Homo sapiens: one gene and its partners. The protein of the gene in region 3 purifies or fractionates together with the protein of the main gene of each other region. This does not show direct contact. Each region holds a gene or a part of one and is shown on either strand. Other genes may lie near its edges.

Region 1 (8,377 bases), on a different chromosome or scaffold from region 3:
ATTTCTCAAACTCCTCATCCAAGTAGGGTATCAAACTTCATGATGATTTATTCCCTGGAAGACTCTCATGAAATTGTCCAGTTTCTTCACCTATTCTAAGAGACAATCATATCAGGAAATACTATTGCCAAGAGCACATGAATTACAGCTTTTCAACAGTCAGCAGCCCTTTCTTATTGAGAGAATCAACATTTTCTAGTTTGAAGTTTACACTCACTTTTGTGTTAGATCATGGGAATAAGATGCAAGCCTTTTGCCTATGCAGACTTTTATTTCATGTAAACAAAAGCAGGTTGTCAAACTCATGCCCCTTAAGAAAGAAAAACATTTGCAGGCTCCTGGCAGCAATTACTTTTGTTTAACAGGACATTATATGGGCCCTGTGCTGTTTTATGTTTGTCAGAGTTTGTTTATATTTTAATAACTTTTTGGTAGTACCTTTTTTGGTTGTGAGGAATTTCAGCGTTTCTATTTGTTAGCATTATTTCCAGCATATCCTATTATGCACGTGAACTTGAAACATGGCATAACAGTATTTATCTTGGCTATTATTTTGTTCACAATATCTAATTTTACTAAGTTTTTCTTTTTTAAATTGAGAACTGTTACACACAAAACCCTAAACTAGAGAGGCTGAGTTCTGCAAGTGATTTATGTAAATCTGAATAAAACATGAATGAGTTGGGATTATTTGGGAGCGGGGAGGAGATTTTGCAATTGAGTCTTCCTAGTCTATTTAAAACTTACACTGGATGTTAACAAATTAAGAAGGCAAGTTGAATGTTCACGAAAAATTGGACAGGGCAGCGTTAAGCACAAATGCTTAACGTGAATCTTTCTTCGTATTATATGTAGAGATCTAAACTGTCATAATTCTCTGTCTGATAAGATTTATAATTCTGCTACTGACGTCAGCAATTCAAGTCCACAAATTCGTGTTCTATTAATATTAAATAAAGAAAAGGATATACATTATGGCAAAATTTATTTTCTAAGATCAGAGGTGATGGATTCAACAGGAGGGTGTTAGAGTGTGTTTTGTCTATGCATGGGTTTAAAAGATAAGAAAAAAAAAAGCCCTAACCCTTCATCCTCAGGCTCCTGAATGTCTGTTTTGACACCCAGGTGGATGTAGTGGAATGACACTTCCAGCATCCCCAGAAGACTGAGGGCTAGAATGCCAAGCTTTTCCAGCAAATGTTCGTAGTAAAGTTACCAGGCATTTCTATACAATTTGTTTTTTTCCAGATGAGTTGGGCTTGTTCTTTCCTAGAAGCAATTATGATGCTAATAGGAGTGGCTGGCACACAAAACAGGGTAGCTATGAATTCAGCGGCACCTTGAATCTAACAAGGGGCTCCAGGTCATTCTTTGCTCACTTCTTCTTCCATCTGTCATTGAAAATTGGAGAGCATTTGATTAAGATCATTATAGCAGTTAGCAGTCTGATTCCAGCACTGGAAAGCAGGGAAGTAAAGGGCTATTTCCACCCCCGATCGATGCTGCCAGTTTTAAATGGCATCAAGCCCCTGACCTCCACATTGTCCCAAAATGATCTCAATAGCTTGTCCGGCTCCTGGTGGTGGTAGTGGAAGGGACTGGATGGGCGGAACAAAATTCTTCAACCCTTCTAAACAAACAGATGTCGCTTTTCTGCCGTTCCTGCAGTACACCTGTCTGCCCTGGGAAGTACATTTCTCAGCTGCAGCCCCGCGAGGCCAAGAGCTTGAAGCTGGGTCCTGTGGTTGGGGCTGCAGGTGCTGGGCCTAAAGAGCACGAAGGGGTGCTCCGATGCCCGAGCCCTGGTGCCCAAGGTGTGTGTGTGTGTGGCGGTTGCGGGGGTGGGGTCCGAGGTTTGGAGGGCCGACCTCTTGAAGGCGGGCGGCAGCCACCAACCACATCCTGGCTCCCGCACAGACACACCCCCGGGGTGTCGGTGCCGCAGCCCTCAGCCCCTCCCCGGGTAGCCAGCAGCGCCCGGTCGGCCGCTGGCCGCAGGAGAAAGTAAACAACACCCCAAGTGTCCGGGAACAAAGGCAAGTTGTCTTTCTACGGTGCCGCAGCCGTGTGCCTCTTCTGAAGAATAAGAGCTATTATTATTCTTTATGTCTTATCCTTTTTTTTTTTTAAAAAAAAAACCAAGTTTCCTTCTAAGGGAAATAAACACCAAAGGTAGGATTCCAAGGAAATGACTCACAGCGGCTGGCAGGGCTCTGGCGGGGCTGGCCCGGGCCCCCGCGCTCCAGCCCGCAGCAGATGTCGGCCCGGCCTTCCCTCCCTCCCTTGCCGGCCAAACCCGCTGGAAGCCCGCGGTTGCGGGAGCGCCCTGCGCCCGTGGGACCTGGCGGCGAGGACGCCTATTCCCTGCTTCTGCGACCACAGCTGGGCACTCGGAAAGTTGCTAGGGCCGAAGAGGCGGGAGGGGAGGAAGGGAAGCGAGAGGCGGAGGCGTGGACCAGGCGGGCAGCAGCCTCAGCCCGCCGAGGAGGTGAGCTGAGGACAGAGGAGCCGCCGCCGCCCGCAGCGCAGCTCTGCTGCCTGGGAGGAGGGTGCGGGGGCGGAGGTGGCGGGGGACAGAAGGTGTCAGCTACTGCATCAATTCCTTTTTCTTGCAAACGCGCGCTCCTGACATCCACAATCCCTCTCTCCCCACCTGCCAAGCGCCGCGGCATCCGGACCTGGGGGCACCCCTCCTACTTAACCCCTTCCCCTACGATGAGGGACTAAGCGGCCACGGAGGACCATGAGGTCTCACCAGAGCTTCTGACCCCACCCGCCCCTGGAGTTGTCTCGGTGCGCGCGGGTGGCAGCCCGAGCAGCCCTAGAGGAGGCGGCGGTTCCCGCCCTGGTGAAGGCGCCGCGGCGCACGCTAGCCCAGGGAAAAGCCCGCGCCGCCTCCGCGCCCAGCTGTGCCTTGGCCCCCACGCCGCCCCGACTCCGCTCCGGCCGCTGCGAGTCCACTCGGTGACCTCGGCACAGCCCTGGTGCCAAGAGGGCGCGCGGGAGGCCGCGTGGGTGCCCGTCTGCGAGGGCAGGAGCCCCGGGGGGCCCTCGCCCTCCACCCTGCCCGGCCCTCCCGCCCCCGCGGCCCGCGCCCAGCCCGGCTCTTACCGCGGGGTCAGCGGGGAGGCGGCGGCCGCAGCGCTTGAGCTGCTGCTGGTCCGCTCTGGGCTCGGCGCCAGCCCGGCCGCCGGTGCACACTCGCGGGTCCCGGCCCGGCCGCCCGCTCGGCGGTGACTGCGGGTGCGCGGCGGGCAAGGGTCCCGGCAGGTCCCGCCGCCGCGACTGGGGCGCTGCGCCGCCGTCGCTGCAGACGGTTATGGTAATGAGCGGCTCTGTCTAGCGAGGAGCGTGTGAAACCCGTCAATCCTGTTTGCCATTTCCCCGTGGATTTCCGAGGAGAGGTTCTGCAGGATGCCCCCAGGGTGAGAGAGGGAACATGACAAGCGCGCCCGCTCTCCCTCCCTCCCTCTGCTCAGGCCGCCGCCGCCGCTCCTCAGGCTGCACACGGGGCGCCTTTCCCGCACCCCCACCCCAGCCCGCCCCCTGCCTCCTTCCCTGCTTCCCGCCCTCCCTCCTCCTTTTCCTCCCCTCCCCTCCCGGTGCCCGGGGACACGCGGGCCCAGCTCCAGCCCGCAGCCCAGACCCCACGCGCTCTCGGGCTCCCGCCCTAGCCCTGGGGGCTTGGCTCCAGCCGAATAATGTATTCACTCTGGAACCTTCCGAGATATCTTGTCTTTTTAAATTTGGTTTAGTTTTGTTGTTGTTGTGTGTGCGTGTGATTAAAAAAAAAATCTGTGCCTTTCCCACCCTTTGCAAAAGACTTTCTTCTCCTTTGCCACAGCAAACGGAGATGAGAAACAGATGTCTTTGCAGGACCAAACAGTTATTCTCCCTCGCCGCCCGCCCCCGCCCGTTTCCCTCCTGAGCTGCGTACGTATTAAAAAAAAAAAAAAAAGCAACCTTGGTCCTGCTGCAACTTGAATTGGCAACCCTTTCTGGGTGGGGAGCCTCCAGGGAAAACCTCCAGGAAATAAAAAGTAATACAAGAGATTGTCCTTGCTCAAGAGAATGTAATTTAAGCCTTGGAATCAGAATATTTTGCAAATAGTAATTTTCTCCTATAGTGGCCTCAGAGTTTATTTTTTAAAATCATTAATTCATAACTTCTGTCTAGGGACCCCTCCATAGTCGAGATGGGTCATTTCAGGTGTAATGAAGGCAGAGGCTTGGAAGGCATAGACCTAATAAAATCGGGAGAAGGCACCTGCACAAAAGTGTTACAAAGACTATAATGTTTGTTTACTGCCACTATACCAGATGTGCTAAATATAACACTTCTTTAAAACAGTGATCCTCCGACTGTGAAAAACCAGACCTCTGGCTGCCTGGCTCCCTAGGAATCAAGAAGACGCACAGACTGAAAATCAAGGGAGGAAGGAACAAGATCAAGGATGAGGATTAGCATCTGCAAATTGAACTCTATCTAATTTGCATGTTTATTTCTTAGAATTGTAATTAAATTTGTGTAATAAATGTTTTCCATTTCATTTGTACACTTAAAACTTGGGTGACTGACATGCAGTTAAGTGAATTTCCTTTTTTTAAAAGCAAATGTAGATTATTCAATAAAGCAGCAAACCAATATTAAACATAATTAGAACTAATTTGTTTTGAAGGTGTTTTTGTTGAACTTTGTACATTAAAGACTCTCAGAGGTTTTAAGGGTATTAGGAAGCTGAGAGATGGCAATTATGCTTAAAACAGATGAACCCAACAGCCTACCAAGAGCATTATTTCATTTTTTCCAAAAGACATTCCAGGGTTGCATGCCTAAAATTGGGAATTGGGCATCCATCTTGGCTTTATTCTGAACCATATTAAATTGCATTGGCTCATGCATGATGTGGGCCATTATGATGATAATTTAAGAATTGTAAAGATGCCATTTTGTGCAGTCAATGGAAGTTGCATGTCCAGGTTAAGAGTAGAGTATAATTTTCATCTGGGTGGGAGAGGAGGGTTAGGAAAGGCACAAGGGCATTTAAAGCAGTGCAAGTACGTAGAAATCCAAATTTCCAAATAATCTAAAACTGGTTATTGTCAAACTCAAAAGAACTAAATGTGAGGGTTTGGAGGCATGGCTTATTATGGTTTTTATCTCCCTATATTAAAGTTTTATGGCATTTAAAGGACTATGGGTAAATCCCCATGTACACTTGGCTGTGTGAAAATACATAAAATCAAAAGGAGCAAATTAAGCATAAAATTGAGAAATAACATGAGACTAAGTTATCAGCATGGGTGCACTGGCATCTTTGGAGCTTTGGCTCGGAGAAATGAGCCTTCTGGGAAACTGGCATTGCCCTTGGGTGGAGAAGACTCTTGGCTTTAATGTTACAACAAAATGGTATCACAAGTATCAAATCATTGTACTTCACAGCATCCTTGCAGTTCTGAGTATGAACTAGACCCTGTCCTCATCAGATACATTAGGTTAGCATGTTTTACTGACAGCTTTCCCTGCCCTACCTTTAATCCTAAGCTTAATGTTTTTTGAGATTCAATACCCAACTGTTGACAACATGAACCTGTGTCTACAAGTACAAGAGGCAGACAAATGTCTATGGAATGAGAAACCTCATTACAAATTTAAGGTGACTATGTGGTAGCTATGGCATGAAAAAAGAACCAACTATAAATCAATAATGAAAAATTTGGAATGAGTAATTGTTATTTATAATGAGGTACAATATTTAATTGACAACTATGATGTCATCATTTTGGGGTGTGTGTGTGTGTGTATGTGTGTGTGTGTGTGAGAAGCTCCAAATAGAAGTTTGATTATAAAACTTATAATACTTTGAGCTGCAAATTTACTGAAGGCAGTGGTTGTTTTCCTTTGTTTAACAAAGAGACTTTCAGACTTAAAATTGCTGAAACCCATTTCACAAAACCTTTTTGTCATTTGTCTGATAGGGGGATTTCACAAGTAAAATTTGACTTATTCAGATTGTTGTGGACACAATACCCACTTGGATTAATTGAAAGTTAAAATTACTGGCTTAAAAAAATAGACCATTTTTGGCTGGGTACGGTGGCTCACGCCTATAATCCCAGCACTTTGGGAGGCCAAGGCGGGTGGATCACCTGAGGTCAGGAGTTTGAGACCAGCCTGACCAACACGGCGAAACCCCGCCTCTACTAAAAATACAAAAAATTAGCTGAGCATGGTGGCAGGCGCCTGTAATCCAGCTACTCAGGAGGCTGAGGCAGGAGAATAGCTTGAACCCAGGAGGCAGAGGTTGCAGTGAGCCAAGATCGCACCACTGCACTCCAGCCTGGGTGCAACAGAGCAAGAATCCATCAAAAAAACAAACAGCAACAATAAAAAAAAAAAAAACATTTTTTTAATGGCAAAAAGAAGCATCTGCACCCAATTCCTCTTCTATTCTCAAACCTTTTCCACTGAGGCTTTCTTATCCGATCACTCCATTGAAACTGTTCTGGTCAATGTCACCACTGACCTCCACGTTGTTAAATCCAAAGGCCATTTTGCATCTAACTTGACCCTTAAGCAGCATTTGACCCAGTTGCCCACTCCCTCCTCCTTTAAACGCCTTTATCTTGGCTCCTGGGACAACACATCCACCTGATTTGCCTCCTGCCTCACTGGTTGTTCCTCTCAGTCTCCTTTGCTGGTTCCCCCTCTTATCTAGGACCTCTGGATGTTGGGTTGCCTCAAGCTCAGTCCTTGCACCTTGTCTCTTCTCTACAGTCACTCTCTTGTGGATCTCATCTAGTCTCTTCCCTTCAAAACTCTCTATATTCTGATGACTCCCAAATTCATATCTGTAGCCAAGACTCTCTTCTGACTTCCAGACTCTGTGTAGATGCCTAATGGGTATCACAAGCTTTACAGACCCAAAACTCAACCCCTATTATCTCTGCTTTCCCAACCTATGCCACCTTTAATAGTCTCCTTCAATAAACAACAGTATTTTTCTACTTGCTCTGACAAAACTCCTTAGAGTCATCATTGATTTTTTTTACTTCATCTCCTTTATCTAATATATCAGAAAGTCCTTGAGAGGCTACCTTTAAATTTTTTCTTGACTCGGCCAGGCGCGGTTGCTCATGCCTGTAATCCCAGCACTTTGGGAGACCGAGGGGGGTGAATCACGAGGTCAGGAGATTGAGACCATCCTGGCTAACATCATGAAACCCCCTCTCTATTAAAAGTACAAAAAAAAAAGTAGTCAGGCATGGTGGCATGCACCCGTTGTCCCAGCTACTTGGGAGGCTGAGTCAGGAGAATCTCTTGAACCTGGGAGGCGGAAGTTGCAGTGAGCCAAGATCGCACCACTGCACTCCAGCATGGGTGACAGAGTGAGACTCCATCTCAAAAAAAAAAAAAAAAATTTCTTGACTCTGATCACTTCTCATTATCTCTACCACCACCATTCTGGTCCACGCTTTCATCATGATCTTCTGCCTAGGATATGACAATGGCCTCCTAACTGGTCTTCCTGCTTACATCTTTGGCCCTCTTTCTAGTTCAATCTCGGGTCAACAGCAATGGTGTCAATTTTTGCCAAGGCTCTTCCTAGAGCTCCCCATTCAAAATAAAAGCCATGTTCTTGTAATAGCCTGCAAAGACTAGAAGTCTCTCTTTATTTCTCTGATCTCACTCTGCCTCCAACAACTCCAGCCACTCTGGCCTCCTTTCTGTTCCTCTAACAGCCAGCTTTGCTGTCCTCAGGACATTTGCACTGGCTATTCCCTCTTCCTTTTGTGCTCTTTCCTCAGATAGCTGCACAGATACATGTCCACCTCTTCCACATCCCAGCTCAAGTATCATCTTTTTAATAAGCCCTGACCACTATGCTTGAAATTCTAACACTTCACCTTTATAGCCTGCTTGATTTTCATCCAGAGGATAAAATAAAGATCACCTTCTAATCTGTTATGCATGTGTTCAATGTATCACTTCTCTTCTTCCACTAGAAAGTAATGTCCATAAGGGGAGGGATTTTTGTCTTTTTTGTTAGCCCCCGTATCTTCAGCACCTAGCACAGTACAAGTACTTGGCATACTGAAAGCACTCAATAAATATATAATGATTGTTTGAACAACTGACTGACAGTTTCACGTATATACAGAACCCAAACAAGGCTAAAATAGTGCTAGTCTAATCTAGTGGATGTAGAATGGATAAACAGGCAGTTAGTTTTATTACCTCATTTGCCTCCCAGAATCCTCTGGCCTAGAGCTGCCATCTGCCCTGCAGCTTTCCAGGACCTGAAGATACTACCAAGATTCCCGGGACCCAGTGGTTTCATGCTGCCCTCCCTGCCTGAGAGTCCCAGTACTAGAT
Region 2 (7,739 bases), on a different chromosome or scaffold from region 3:
AGCCAGGCGTGGTGGCGGGTGCCTGTAGTCCCAGCTACTCGGGAGGCTGAGGCAGGCGAATGGCGTGAACCCAGCAGGCGGAGCTTGCAGTGAGCCGAGACTGCACCACTGCACTCCAGTCTGGGCGACAGAGTGACACTCTGTCTCAAAAAACAAAAAGGAAAAAAAAAAAAAGAAAGAGCTGCTCCCTTTGCCTGGAATGGCATGTCAAAGTCATAAAGATAGAAATGACTTTGTACTATGAGTAAACAGCAAAGTAATTACCTTGGCTAGAATGCAGAGTTTCTATAAAGGAAATGAAAATTTTAAAATTAAGTAAAAAAGAAAAAAAAAACATTTTAATGATGCCTTCAAAGCCTTACTATAACAGAAAGTTGAGGGATAAAAATGAAAACAATATTTGTACAAGTTATTTATAACAGATTAGGACAAAGGTAAGAGTAAGAGTAAAGGAAATCACTTAGAAAGCTTAGTTTTCAAAAAACTCAGATCAGGGTCGCAGTAACAGGAGTGTAGGCAGCATAAGATAATGACTTGGAAAGAAATACACAGAACAATTAAAAGTTAGAAATCAAAAACAAAAATCAGTTGGATTTAAATGTCGAAGATCAAGGACAGAATAACTTTGAGGAAGCTGTGGCTAGAAAAACACAGAAATTAGAAAAGTATGGGATTAATGAACTCAACTTTCCAAATGTAAACAGCCAATGTCAACGTGACACCTACGTCCTTTGAACAAGTGGAAAATATACAAGACAAATCAGTGAGGGGCCAGGCACAGTGGCTCATGCCTGTAATCCCAGCACTTTGGGAGGCCGAGGCAGGCGGATCACCTGAGGTCAAGAGTTCAACACCAGCCTGGCCAACATGGTGAAACCCCATCTCTACTAACAATACAAAAATTAGCCAGGCATGGTGGCACGTGCCTGTAATCCCAGCTACTCAGGTGGCTGAGGCAGCAGAATTGCTTGAACCCAGGAGGCAGAGGCTGCAGTGAGCCGAGATCGCGCCACTGCACTCCAGCCTGGGTGACAGAGCAAAACTCCAACTCAAAAAAAAAAAAACACCGAAAAAAAAGAAACATCAATGAGAAATTAGAAATTGAGACTGTAGATTTGTGTATTATACATATATAAGGTAGAATCTTAATACATGTAAACATTAGCACCCAGGAGAAATAGGTAAAAAATTTTAAGTGTGTACAATAACAGTTATGTATATACGTATACACATACTTGAGAGACATAACAGTGACTCCAACTTCCAAAATATTACAAATCTTAGAAACTGTGTATCAACAATAACTGACTATATGCCAAAGACACACACATTCCTCTGTATGCAGGTGCACAGGCTAAAAAAGACAGGACTAAGTTCTTGGTAGTGACTACACAGATATTTTTGAATTTCGAAAATGATGCTAAATCATGGGACTGCTAATCAACTACTGAAATATAAGCTAATACATATTTGTTAAAAAATTACTTCTCTGGTCTGGTGCAGTGGCTCACACCTGTAATCCCAGCACTTTGGGAGGCCAAGGCGGACAGATCACAAGGTCAGGAGTTCGAGACCAGCCTACCCAACACAGTGAAACCCCATCTGTACTGAAAATACAAAAAATTAGCCAGTCATGGTGGCAGGCGCCTGTAATTCCAGCTACTCAGGAAGCTGAGGCAGGAGAATCACTTGAACCCGGGAGGCAGGGGTTGCAGTGAGCTGGGATCATGCCATTGTACTCCAGCCTGGGCGACAGGAGTGAAACTCCATCTCAAAAAAAAAAAAAAAAAAATTACTTCTCTTCCAGAACTTCGTTTTCTCTCCTACACCTGTTCCTCTTCCCAGAATTTTCTCTATCTTAACGATGACACCATCATCCACCCAGTTGCTCAAGCAAAAAATCTAGGAGATCTTGATTCCTCTCCCACTGATCCAATCCAATAATACTAACCTATTGATCCCACTTCCAAACTGACATCCAAATCCTTTCCATCTTCACTACCACCCTATTAACAACATCATCTCATGCTGAGACTTGAAATGTGGCTGGTACACGTTATTTACACTCAAATAATAAGATTTTGGAAAATTTTGGTCGAATACAAATATTGTTAATTTCACCTATTTCTTTTTTCTTATAAAAACATGGCCAGTAGAAAACTTAAAATCAACAGGTAGCTTACATTATATTTCTGTTGTAAAGCACTGTTTTAAACTATAACATTTAGGTAATAAAAGTGCAAAGAAGGCCGGGCACGGTGGCTCACGCCTGTAATCCCAGCACTTTGGGAGGCCAAGGTGGGCGGATCACAAGGTCAAGAGATGGAGACCATCCTGGTCAACATGGTGAAACCCCGTCTCTACTAAAAATACAAAAGTTAGCTTGGCGTGGTGGCATGCGCCTGTAGTCCTAGCTTCTTGGGAGGCTGAGGCAGGAGAATTGCTTGAACCCGGGAGGCAGAGGTTGCAGAAAGCCGAGATTGCACCACTGCACTCCAGCCTGGTGACAGAGTGAGACTCCTTTTAAAAAAAGAAAAGAAAAGAAAAGAAAAAGTGCAAAGAAAACAAAGGCTGCGCTTACCATAAAAGTCAGGATAATGTTACTCTTAAGGAAATGGAGTGGCAAGTGGAGGAGGAAAGAGAGATTGTGTTTGAAAGGGAATCCATGGAGGGATTCTGGGATAGTGGCTGTCAAAGTGATGTCTCCTATCATAGGTGATCGTTAACAAGTTGGTATTACCTTCTAATAGTTCATTAAGTTATACATTCATTTTGTACATTTATTATTAGAATAAAAATTCTAATAATTTTTAAAATTATTTTCAAAGTAGGATTTAGATCTTTAGATTTAGGATCTGAAAATGAGACTCATTAATATGTGTCCTGGGGCTTGTGGTCCTGTACACATGAAGCGATCTTAGGGCAGGCAACATGCAAATTAAAAGCCCAAAAGGACTATTCTAGAGTCCAGGAACTCTGGGAGCTGATCCTATTAAGCACCATTACAGAGAAGCGGGACAGCCTAGCTGTGAAGGGCACAAATTCTGGAGCCAAACCACCTAGATTCAAATTCTGACTCCACTACTGCTAACTATGCAAACTTCAGCAAGTTACTTAAACTTTCTGTGCCTTTGTTTTCTAATGTGTAAAATGGGCTATCTCATGGGGCTGTTGTAAGGACTGAATTACTTAATACACATAACTACTTAAAGGCAGAGAAAAATTAAGTACTTCATTTGGATGTTTGCTAGTTTTATTGTTATTTCTACACCAAAGAGATCTAGATCTTCAGAATTGAATACGATTATGTGAAGTAATCCCATACACTACTATAGAAGAAGCAGAGAGTCAAATAGCTTTCCTAACACATTCTAAGCTTATTTATCTGAAAAGTCAAAAATTCCAGGAAACATTACTCCCTCATATTACAATACAGCCAGCAATTCCCAAAGGTATGTTACCCTCCATGCAGCTTTGGTCTTCCTTTCTAATTATGGCTCCCATTTCCTCTCTGACTCCCCACTCTTTTAACAGCTGCTAATGTAAGAGAGAAATCATGGTCTGGTTAAGAAAGAAACATAAGAACATTGAGATAAGCATGTTACACTTTAACCAGGCCAGAATCAGCACTAATTCTGTAAAAAGAATCCTAACAAGAAAACTAAAACTCCCCAAAGAAATTCTGAAAATTTAGAGGAAAGGAGCATATCTGTGTCCCTTAAATACTAAGAGTTAGTTTACCTGTTCATCTGAAGCTAGACTAGTGAACAGTGGAACAATTTCACTTTTCACACTGTCTAATTCCAAAACTTTTGCAAATTCACCCAATTTGGAAGCAGCAGCACGTCGTACCATTGGTGTGTCATCTGAGCACAAGGAACGGAATTGCCTGCAACATAAAACAATGAAGGTATTTCCCATCAAATAACACTGAATAAACCTGCCCCCCATACACACAGACAGACTTTTAGAGGTTTTATCTTACAATAATCAGTGACTAAGCTTCTACTTATAGAAGTAACAAAAATAAAACATATTCAACTGGATAATAAAAAATGACATCATAGGCCAGGCATGGTGCCTCACACCTGTAATCAAAGCACTTTGGGAGGCCCAGGTAGGAGGACTGCTTGAGGCCAGGAATTGAAAGCAGACTGGGCAACATAGCAAGACCCTATCTATATGCCAAAAATATTTTTGTTGTTGTTTGTCGGGGGCTCAAGTGAACTCCCACCTCAGCCTTCTGAGTAGCTAGAAATACAGGCGGGTCCCACCATGCCCAGCTAATTTTTTTCTTTTTAGTAGAGACAAGGTCTCACTATGTTGCTCAAGCTGGTCTTGAACTCCTGAGTTCAAGCAATCCTCCCACCTCAGCCTCTCAAAGTGCTGGGATTACAAGCATGAGCCACTGCATCCAGCCAGAAATTTTTTTTAAAAATTAGCCAGGCGCAGTAGTGTATGTCGGTAGTCCTAGCTACTTGGAGGCTGAGGCTGGAGGATCACTTAAGCACAAGAGTTCAAGGTTGCAGTGAGCTATGATTGTGCCACCGCACTCCAGCCTAGACAACAGAGCAAGACCTTATCTCTTAAAAAAAAAAAAGAAAGATGTCATAAATCCTACTATCCTAGTATCAGCCACTCATTGGTAACAAGGTACTATGTAAATTGTCAGCTACAAGTCCCCAGTAATCCCAAATAACTCATAGCTTACTACCTGATTTCTGCTTTAACAAGGCAAAAAAATACCATGGCTTACTGTCTGATTTCTGCTTTAACAGCATTTGATGCCCTGGGATAGCAAACGCTGAACAAACCACATGCAGATGTGCGAGAGGTGAACCAATCCCCACTTGCTAAGCGTTTCACCAGAGGTACAAAATAAGCTTCCAGAGCAACAGGAGTATGCTCCTGGGAGATCTGTCTCAGGGACTCCACAGCCTTGTCACGAACAACAGTCTCTTCCACAGTTGCCAGATTTTCCAAAGGAGGCTGAATGGATTAAAAAGGAAAACCAGAGAAGAAAACTTATTGAATCAGGTTAGAAACAGATAATCACCTTTTAAAGTGACTGAAGGGAGGTGGTACACGTAACCAGAATGTTAGCTGCATCATACCAAATGGTTACTTTCAGCTCACACAGTGATAACATATGGTGCGGCCAACCCAAAGACACGACTTCTGTAGAAAAGCCAAGATCTCGTGTCCCAGATGGCAATTCCCAGATGGTGTCTACAAATGACACAGTGTAAAAGACTTGACACAATATTAATATTACTGTGAGTTGAATCACTAGGTTTAAAAGATACATAGCCAAATTCAGACAGGATCATGTATATTTCCTCAAGAGTAAGTACAAAACTATGACCAATGTTAGGCACCACAAATACAGGATAACAGCTTGTCAGGTCACTGAGTCCACAGCCTTTTCAGTATCTTTCCACCATTCCCAGAGGTGCAAGCAACCCTTATCCACCATCTCCATCCCATCCTTTTATCCAACCTATAAAATGCTGAATGCAAAATTGCTTTTTTCAGAACACATTCAGCAACTTTCCATTAGCCATAGGGCAGAAAGGAGTTTCTGACAGAACAATCAAGTGAAAACTACAGAGACTGGCCAGGCACGGTGGCTCACACCTGTAATCCCAGCCGTCGGGAGGCCGAGGTGGGCAGATCACTTGAGGTCAGGAGCTCGAGACCAGCCTGGCCAACATGGTGGAACCCTGTCTCTACAAAAAATACAAAAATTAGCCAGACATGGTGGCACACGCCTGTAAACCCAGCTTACTCAGGAGGCTGAGGCATGAGAATCACTTGAACCCGGGAGGCAGAGGTTGCAGTGAGCCGAGATTGTGCCACTGTACTTGAGCCTGGGTGACAGAGTGAGGCTCTTGTCTCAAAAAAAAAAGGTAAAGTACAGAGATGGTAGGACACCTTGCTTACAGCTTTAGAAATAAAAGAAGCCAAATGGGGTGGATGGTCTGGATTAAGAGCAGTAACTGAATATGGCATGGCCTAGTAAAAAGTGTAAACAGGCTGGCTCTCTGAACCTCTGCCTTACTGAGTTTGCATGTAGTCCAGGTAGATTCTACACATGCCATGAGCTACAGATTTTAAAGCATAAAACCCACATATAGAACTAACCAAGAGTGAAACAGAAGCATAATGAGTTAAAGAAAAGAAGTGTGTCTAATAATATATTTTAAAAATTGTTTGATACACACAGGTAGACAGTATTCAGCTTTCCTAGAAGGTATTTCAGAAACTCATTGAAAAGATACTGTTTCTCACTTGCCAATGCATTTCATGATCTGTCCCCTGCCTACTGTAACCCCCTCTCGTGCAGTACCACTGGATAATAGCTATCATTACTACAGGATGAGGCCATGCTCCTGAGAATTGCTTATGAGTGGTCTCTTGATTTGAACTCTGCCTGGCCCTTGATGACCACTCTGCCTACCCAGCCTCAACACTTCACACTCCAGCAGTTCTTTTTTTTTTTTTTTTTTAAGAGACAGGGTCTTGCTCTGTTGCCCAGGCTGAAGTGCAGTGGCACAATCATGGCTCAGTGCGGCCTCAGACTCCTCGTCCTTCTGCCTCAGCGTCCCGAATAGCTAGGACTCAGACACATGACATCATGCCCAGCTATTTTTTTTTAAGTGTTGGGGTCTCACTATGTTGCCCAGGCTGATCTTGAACTCCTGGCCTCAAGCAATCCTCCTGCTGCTTTGGCCTCCCAAGGCAAGGATTACAGGTGTGAGCCACCACACCCAGCCACACTCCGGCAGTTTTGAACCCAGCCTGTTTCATGCTTCCAAGCCTCTGAAACTCATTTTTTCAATACATTATTATTGGTATATTCTAGCATTGAGGACACAGAAGAAACAAGGCAGACAAGGTTCCTCACTCTAGTGGCATTTACATTCTAATGGAGTAAGACAACAATCAATCAAGAAAATAAGTAGATGGTGATGAGTACTCTATAGAAAAAAGGAGTAGGATGATGTAGTAAGGGATGACTGTGAGGCTATTTTAAGTTGAGTGGTTGGGGAAAACCTCCCTGAGGAGATGCATTGAAGTTGATCCCTGAATGACAAGGAGCCAGCCACAGAAAGCTTGAAAGAGCTTTTCATTAGAGGGAAGACCTAGGGCAAAGGTCCTAAGGGAATAATGAGCTTGGTTAGTTCAAAAAACAGAAAGATGACCAATGTGAATGGAAGAGGTTATCAAGGCCTTTTGCAGTCTGTTCCCTGCCTACTGTCACCTCTTCTCATGCAGTACCACTGGGCATATGATAATCCTACAGAGGCGGGTCATAAAAAGCCTTGTAAGCTAAGGTACAGAATTTGGATTTTCTAAGAGCTATAGCAGAGAGTGAGCCATCTGCTGGGTGATGTGAACTGTAAGAGTCGGGTGAGAGGCAAGAGTGGAAAGCATTGCTAGGAAGCTACTACAGCAATCTAGAGGAAAGATGACAGTCTGGACTAGGCTGGTAATAGGAGGGATGGAAGAAAGTGGACTTATTTGAAATATACGTAGACTCTATAGGAATTACTAATGGATTAGATGTGTGGAACAAGGCACAGAGGATTCAAGAATACATTCTAGGTTTTGGCTTGTGCAAGTGGGAAGATAGTGATACCATTTACTGAAGTGGAACAACTAAATGAGAGGTGTATTTGGGGGATAAAGCTAAGTTTTGTTTTGGGTATGTTAAGTTTGAAATACCTGTTTGACAT
Region 3 (7,739 bases):
CTTCGAGAGCCAACGGCAAGCCTCAGGTTGTGTTACTTGTGCTTCTGACTGACTGGCTATCAATCAGAGTGTCCACAACCCTCACTGAGCACGCAGATCTCAGGGAAACACTTTAGTTTAGCGGTTTATTATAAAGGAGACTACAGAGGACACTGAGGTGATGCACAGGGCGAGGGACGGGGGCTGAGACACAGAGCTCCCGTGTCCTCTCTGGGTGGGCCCCCCTCCAGAAACATCTGGAAGCTATCTTCAAACCCAGTCCATACATAGGCAAGACTGTTTGGCCACTGGTGATCAGCTTAACCTTCAGCTCCCCCACCCCTCACCACTCCCCGAGGTTGGGGATCGGGGCTGAAAGTCCCAACCTTCTAATCCTGCCTAGGTCTTTCTGGTGACCAGCCCCTGTTCTGAAGCTACCCAGGGGTTGCCGGCCCTTAGCCAACGCATTACGAAGACATCACTGACGAGCCCGAGGATTTTAGGAGTTGTGTACTAGGGAAGACCAAATACATATTCCACAGTATCACACAAGCTGAACTAGCCCTTTTTTTCATGGAATGCCATTTTTATTTGAAAGAACAACTGACCAACTTTGGTTATTAAGAATTTGGTATCTGGCAGAAATTGACTTGAAAATGAACACACTGCGTCCCTCACTTCACAGAAAGTAACTGACAGTATTTGTTACCAATGATAAAATCCAAGCTTTCAAGAGAAAATTAGAATTTTGGAAAACTTTTCTCTACTACTGCTAATTTGACAGTTTCTCACTTTTTCTTCTGATGAGATCAGTGATGACATTAAAAAATAGGATTTTCTTCAAGTTTACATAATGGAATGTGTTAACATTTAGAAAAAAAAACAACTCCATGTAACAATATTTCCAAACAACCCCCGTGTGATGTTACCAAATCATGTCCATGAGCAAAAGACCCACTCTGAGCACAAGACAGACCTCAGGGTTCTGACGGAAGAGAGTACAGAAACGTCACTGACTCCGAAAGGCCGGCACACTCAAACACGCTGCCACCTGGCGAGTTATGGTGCATCGCTAAGAGCCTCCAGGATGACCCCTCTTCTGCCCACATGGAAGTGTGACGCCACATTTTCCTTACACATTTCAATAAAGCAACTGGAACACACGGAATGCAGAAGCAGGTCTGAGAATCCAGCCGTCACCTCTTAAACCTCATATTTTAAAAGGATGTGCAAAAGTGTAAAACAACACTGTTCTTCTTGCTTAATCTTTTTGTTTTTGAAAAGTTGTTTCTCATTAAAAAGGTTATGTTAACATGTAGTAGATTCTTTTAAAGTAAAATAAATATTGTAAGTTGTTCTGTTTTAATTTCAAATATAGAAAACATCAACAGCGATAACCAGCACAAACAAAGGCTCTCTGGATCCTCAATATAACTATTAAGAGTATAAAATTATTCCAGCACCAAAAGACTTTGCAAACCAACTCTAGGTCAGGGTTTAGCAAACCACAACCTGGGCGACATCTGGCCAGCTGCCTGTTTTCTGTAGGCATGCTCCTGTGGAAGCAGGGCACAGAGCCACGCCCATCCATCTCTGCAGGGTCTATGGCTGTCTTCCTGCTAAAGGCAGAGTTGAATTCAGTCGTTGCAACAGGGACAGGATGGCCTGAAAGTCTAAGATACTTACCATTTGGCCCTTTACAAAAAAGCTTGGCCACCCCGAAACTAGAGTAAGCCCATTTTCCCAATCTTTATTATTGCAGTAACTTCCTATCTCCATTCTTACCCACCACCATCCACTCTCCAAAGGGCAGAGTGACCTTGTTAAAAACAAAGCTGATGTCGCTCCTCCGCTTAGGATCTGAAAAGCTCACAATCACTCAGAGTCCTGAGCACACGATTCAAGTCCTTTATTCATCATCCTGTGGCCCCAGCCAGCCTCCTGCTCATCACAGCCACTCCCTTTTCTGCCAGAGGACCATGCCAAGCACTGACCTCTCAGAACATACCATGCTCTGTCCAACCTCCACACCAAGCACTCTCCACCTGGAACATTCTCCTCCCCTTCCCTTCCTCCCTCTTCTTATACCCTGATGTCCTCCCCTCCACTCCCTACCCAAGTCTGTGTACTGGGTACTTCTTCACATTGCCTCAGTGTGCTCTGGTCCAGCCATGGTGCAAGGACCCACCTGCTTGTCTGTGTCCAAACAGCGTTTCCTGAAGGCAAGAACTGCATTTCTATTTCCAACAGCCAGCACTAGCAGCCCTTTGGTATGCTGTCGTGAACTTTTCAGATGTGCCAAGCTGAAAGCTGGCCCCTGCATTACCCTTCATTTTTCTTAAACTGGCTCCCTGAAGTGACAGAGTCAGCTATTTTCCTATGCAAGAGGGTCTCTTAAGACAACAGCCTCTGAACAGTTACCAGTTAACGTGTTTGTTTGTCAGAGCTTTCCATACATTTTCTGGAATCTTCACAGCAACCCTGTAATGGTCACAAGTAATAGTACCCGTTTAACAGATGAGAAAAGAGTAAGTAACTTCCCAAGTTAACACAAAGCCTGAAGAGGGTGAAAAAGGGATGTGTACCAAATTCCACGTGCACAATTCCTCTCCATCACCTGGTAATATCATGACATTCCATATGCTGACTGACATCCAGTGGGAGAGACGAGCCTAATAATACATGTGATAAAATAAGGGAACCACAAGCAGGACACAGCCAATTGCTAAACAACATGGAACACAGTGTGAAAGGGAAATCTGGAGTCTAAGACGACACTGAACGCTGAGGGGAGCTGGAGCAGGGACTCGCCAAGTGGGATTGGAGGTGGATTTAGAAGGATCAGCAGGGCTTAGGGAATGGACAGGAAGCAAAATAAATACTCTAGGCAAAGAAAGAAACAGGAGCAAAGATCAAGGGATGGGAATAATCACTGAATAATAACGTAAACATTAAGAGGCCAGGCCCAGTGGAAGGGATCTGGGTAGATGGACATGAAGCAGGTAAGGAAAAACAAGAAACTGCTATTTTTGTGTTTAAATATAGCTAAAACCAAGCCCCAATACTTTAAAATACAAGAGAATTAACAGTTGTATCTAATACTTGAAAAGCACTTTTCAAGTTGCAACAGCACTGCACATTGTTTGATCTTAACAAAAAGCTTCTGATTTAACTTCTAGATAAGCGAGCTGAAGCTCAGAAAGGGGCCCTCAGAGTTGAAAACAGCAGACACAAACCCAACCTGGAACTTCCCATCAGAACAGCAGACTGCTTAAAATCAGGGAACGTGGAAAATCACCAGGTATGATTCAATACCACCACATATCTTGTAAACTTAACTTCACGATGTAACGATGACCAGGCCAGCCTCCTGAGCGTTAAGATGTGGCTGTACTAAGCATGATGAGTCTGTGAATCTTTTTTTTTTTTTTTTGATATGGAGTCTCGCTCTGCTGCCCAGGCTGGAGGTGCAGTGGCGTGATCTCCGCTCACTGCAAGCTCCGCCTCCTGGGTTCATGCCATTCTCCTGCCTCAGCCTCCCCAGTAGCTGGGACTACAGGTGCCCGCGACCACACCCAGCTGATTTTTTGTATTTTTTTTAGTAGAGACGGGGTTTCACCCTGTTAGCCAGGATGGTCTCGATCTCCTGACCTCGTGATCCGCCCGCCTCGGCCTCCCAAAGTGCTGGGATTACAGGCGTGAACCACTGCGCCCGGCGAGTCTGTGAATCTTAAGGCATACAACTGACTTCCTAAAGGCAGAGGCTTCCTATGAAGCTCTCATAAGTCAAACTGCAAAATATTACTAGACTGTTTGCTTGTTTGATGGCCTTCCCCAGAGGATGCTTTCCTGAAGGTTCTCTTCAATGGCACAGATATAAATATTAAGTAAATGAAAATTCTACAATGGAATATAGAAATCAGACCGGAAATAATTCAAATAAGCAGACACCATGTCCCATTAAGACCAAAAAAAAAATATAAATGAATAAATACCAAATGCCCATTATCTGTACACAGAAGAAATCAATAAATATGACTGACAAGTTTTGCATTCACCAACACCGTATTTCATTGATTCTAAGTACATTTCCCCACATCTTAGTATCTCTGAAATTAGATGTAGATTTTATATATACATATAAAAGACATTATAGGAGATTATATATAAAAGACACACCTAATTTCAAAGATTATATATATACATATATAATTATTATTATTTTTTCTTTTTTCTGAGACAAGGTCTCACTCTATTGCCCAGGCTGGAGTGCAGTGGTGCAATCATAGCTCATTGCAGCCTCAACCTCCCTGGCTCAAGCGATGCCCCCACCTCAGCCTCCTGAGTAGCTGGGACTACAGGTGTGTACTACCATACCTGGCAAACGTCCCGAATTTCTTTCTTTTTTTTTTTTTTTTGGTAGAGACAAGATCTCACTATGTTGCCCAGGCTGGTCTCAAATTGCTGGGCTCAAGGGATCCTGCCATCTTGGCCTCCTGAAGTGCTGAGACTACAGGCGTGAGCCACCGAGCCAGACATTATCTTACATTCAATGAAACAGTAACTTTCTGGTGCTGATGCTACAGTTAACTTAATTTTTGTTACCTTTCTGCGACTTAAAATGTTTCTTTCAAAGTACCAATGTAAACTCCCTTGGAAAGGCTATCCTACCAGATTAACCAGATATCTATGTTACTTACATAACTCCCCAGACTCAAGCTTGACTTAAGCAAACAAACCTTTAGTTTTGTTTAGTCTATCTCTTTAGAAACAGGTTAATGTCTAATTCAAAGCAACAGATCATGGATTAAGAAACTGATTAAAGCAAAATCAACAAATAAAACCCCAATACACTTAAAACTACAAATTCTGAGAAGAAAGGAACCAGCTGTTATCAAGCTATAAAGCTATATAAAACCAGGTTCAATATAAGACCCTCCTCCCCCAACCCCTCCCCACGGTTTCTCCATAGGAGCAATTAGTGTAATATATAAAGGAGCAAGACCCATAGCTTCCCTGCAGGTAAGCAGGTTGCAGTCATGTGGAAAGTGACATCACAGGCAAAGGTGCTGCAGCACTTGCTTGACGTGCAGGTGTTTCACTTACTTACTGTCTCTGTGGTATCTACTCTTCAAATAGTTTGAGAATTGGTTGGAAAGTGATGCTATTCTTGAATCCTTGTTACTAATCTTCTATCATTTTGACACAGACTTCCTTTAAAGGCATTCCATTTTCATTTGCCTTCAAAAGCATTTTCACACGCCTCTTGGTAGTAAGATTTTCACCGAGCTTTAGAAGAACAGCTCCATCCCAAGGCTGGACGGCCGCATGCCACAGTGGGGCTTCATCAGTACTGTGCTGGCTGCAAATGGTCGCTGAAGCAGTACAGCGCTCCACGGCTCTGCGGCCAGTCGGCGTGGCTCCAAACCCTGGCCCTGCCATACACTCGCTTTGTGACCCAGGTTAATTGCTCCCACGCCTCGGATTCTGCATCTGAGACTGGGAAGAACAGTATTTCCTTCCTTCTTCGGTGGTGTGAAGATTCACTGACATAGGAAAAGCACTGCGAGCAATCTCTAGCACAGAATGACCACTCAGCAACTGTTACCTATCATGACCTTCGTGCTGGGTCCTCTACAAGGGCTGGGGTGGGAAGGGGGACAGCCAGCCTTCAAGCTTGAGGAGCTCAGTCTACCAGAGAGAGAAGCAAAGGATGAAATACCATGTGACATTGCAAAACACATCACATGCTGAATGAAGTACGTTCCAGGAGAGGGAGCAGGGGCTGGGTGAAGGTGATTCCATAACATGCAGAAAAAATCTGCACAACAGTTAACAATTTCCAGAAAGGAGCCACCGTTTAGAACCGCAACATCGTGGAATTAGAAGCTAACAAACAACTTTTCTACTTGCTTCCTGCTGGAAGCCCCCTGGTTTTACTATTTTAACTCTTGGTCAACTCAGCATATAAACTCACCTAGTCCCACCTTCCAGCAAAGGGAGGAGATGCAAGTCACCACTGACTGCTGCTTATACACCTGCTCATCAGCAGGACACTTAATAACTTCCTTGTGAGCTCAGCTCTACTCCTACCTGCAGGGGGATGGGAAGTCTGATGACCCAGTGGAATCACAACTCTTAGCAAAATGACCTGACCCATAGCTAAACCCAATTCTTTTAAAAAAAAAAGGGGGGTGGGGTGCGCATCAAATTTTACATAGGCCAGCACTTTCACCATAGGTTGATTCTGATTCCCCAGCCCAAAACTATTAGTTTTAAAAACAAAACAGAAATCAAAACAAAAACCAAAGGCTTTTCTATGTCACTCACTTCATGACCTCCAAAGTCAGGAGTGCCTACTCCTAGCCCTGCACCACTTCCTGTGCACTGGGCATCACCCCACTGAAGTCAGGAGAGGACCCAGGCCTTAATCTCTAAGGCTCCTTCTCCTTACCCATTGCAGAGAGGGCAGAAAGACGGCCAGAGTGCAGGGCTGTAGTAAAGCTCTACAGAGCTGAACTTGGCCCAGAACAAAACCTTCAAGAACAAAATGCCTCACAAGCCACAAATCTAAACAAACAAAATCTGCTATACCTTAAGTTCTACAGCCTGAGCAGCAGTGCACGATAAAAACCCCTGTGAACTGCCCATCTCTCTTTTTTTTTTTGAGACAAAGTCTTGCTCTGTCGCCCAGGCTGGAGTGCAGTGGCACGATCTCGGCTCACTGCAAGCTCTGCCTCCCGGGTTCATGCCATTCTCCTGCCTCAGCCTCCCAAGTAGCTGGGACTGCAGGCGCCCGCCATCACACCCGGCTAATTTTTGTATTTTTAGTAGAGACGGGGTTTCACCGTGTTAGCCAGGATGGTCTCGATCTCCTGACCTTGTGATCTGCCTGCCTCGGCCTCCCAAAGTGCTGGGATTACAAGCGTGAGCCACTGCGCCCGGCCATCTCTCTCCTTTTTTTTTTTTTTTTGAGACGGAGTCTCGCTCTGACGCCCAGGCTGGAGTGCAATGGCACCATCTCGCCTCACTGCAACCTCCACCTCCCAGGTTTAAGCAATCCTCCTGTCTCAGTCTCCTGAGGAGCTGGAATTACAGGCCGGCCCTGCCACGCCTGGCTAATTTTTGTATTTTTAGTAGAGATGGGGTTTCGCCATATTGGCCAGGCTAGTCTCAAACTCCTGACCTCAAGTGATCCACCCGCCTCAGCCTCCCAGAGTGCTGGGGTTACAGGTGTGAGTCACCGTACCCAGCCACCCATCTCTTATCTCTCACCAACATCTCTCCCTCAAGGTTGCGTTTGGGCATGACCAGCTTCTTGATCCTTGCTGCTCAGCAATCCCTGGTGACTAACGACTACACTTCCCTTCATCATCACTGACTCTCTGGTGTTAATACAAAGCAACGGTATCACAACTATGGGACAAATCGATGGTGACTTATAAATGTGTTAATCTGGATGGGTTACTATGGCCAAAGCATACATGGATTAAAATAGACAGCTCTGAATACACAGAATAACCAAAACACATGCAGATAATTACCACAAAGCAATGTTACAAAAGAAACCACGACAACTCGAAATACCAAACTTTTGGATTTACTCAAAATTTAACTTAAAATAGGGATTTAAAACTGCAAAAAGTTCCCATCAGTTTAATTCAGAGAACAAAGTATTTGTCAAGATTTTTTTTTTTTTTTTTTTTTTTTGAGATGGAGCCTTGTTCTATTGTCCAGGCTGGAGGGCAATGGCACGATCT

Evidence for each region.
Region 1: the proteins of PPP2R2D (region 3) and SERTAD4 purify together in Homo sapiens (affinity purification with mass spectrometry; 5 studies listed by BioGRID and IntAct, with this or other methods). This does not show direct contact.
Region 2: the proteins of PPP2R2D (region 3) and PPP2R1B purify together in Homo sapiens (affinity purification with mass spectrometry; 5 studies listed by BioGRID and IntAct, with this or other methods). This does not show direct contact.

What each region holds. Positions count from the first base shown.
Region 1 is NC_000001.11:210,227,746-210,236,122, reverse strand, and holds the start of SERTAD4 (SERTA domain-containing protein 4), read right to left. Parts: upstream 3,328-8,377; 5' UTR 3,112-3,327; intron 2,489-3,111; exon of another isoform or gene 2,238-2,488; intron 1-2,237.
Region 2 is NC_000011.10:111,756,063-111,763,801, forward strand, and holds part of PPP2R1B (serine/threonine-protein phosphatase 2A 65 kDa regulatory subunit A beta isoform), read right to left. Parts: intron 4,990-7,739; coding exon 4,757-4,989; intron 3,890-4,756; coding exon 3,742-3,889; intron 1-3,741. UniProt on the Homo sapiens protein: The PR65 subunit of protein phosphatase 2A serves as a scaffolding molecule to coordinate the assembly of the catalytic subunit and a variable regulatory B subunit.
Region 3 is NC_000010.11:131,903,417-131,911,155, reverse strand, and holds part of PPP2R2D (serine/threonine-protein phosphatase 2A 55 kDa regulatory subunit B delta isoform), read right to left. Parts: intron 1-7,739. UniProt on the Homo sapiens protein: Substrate-recognition subunit of protein phosphatase 2A (PP2A) that plays a key role in cell cycle by controlling mitosis entry and exit. Involved in chromosome clustering during late mitosis by mediating dephosphorylation of MKI67.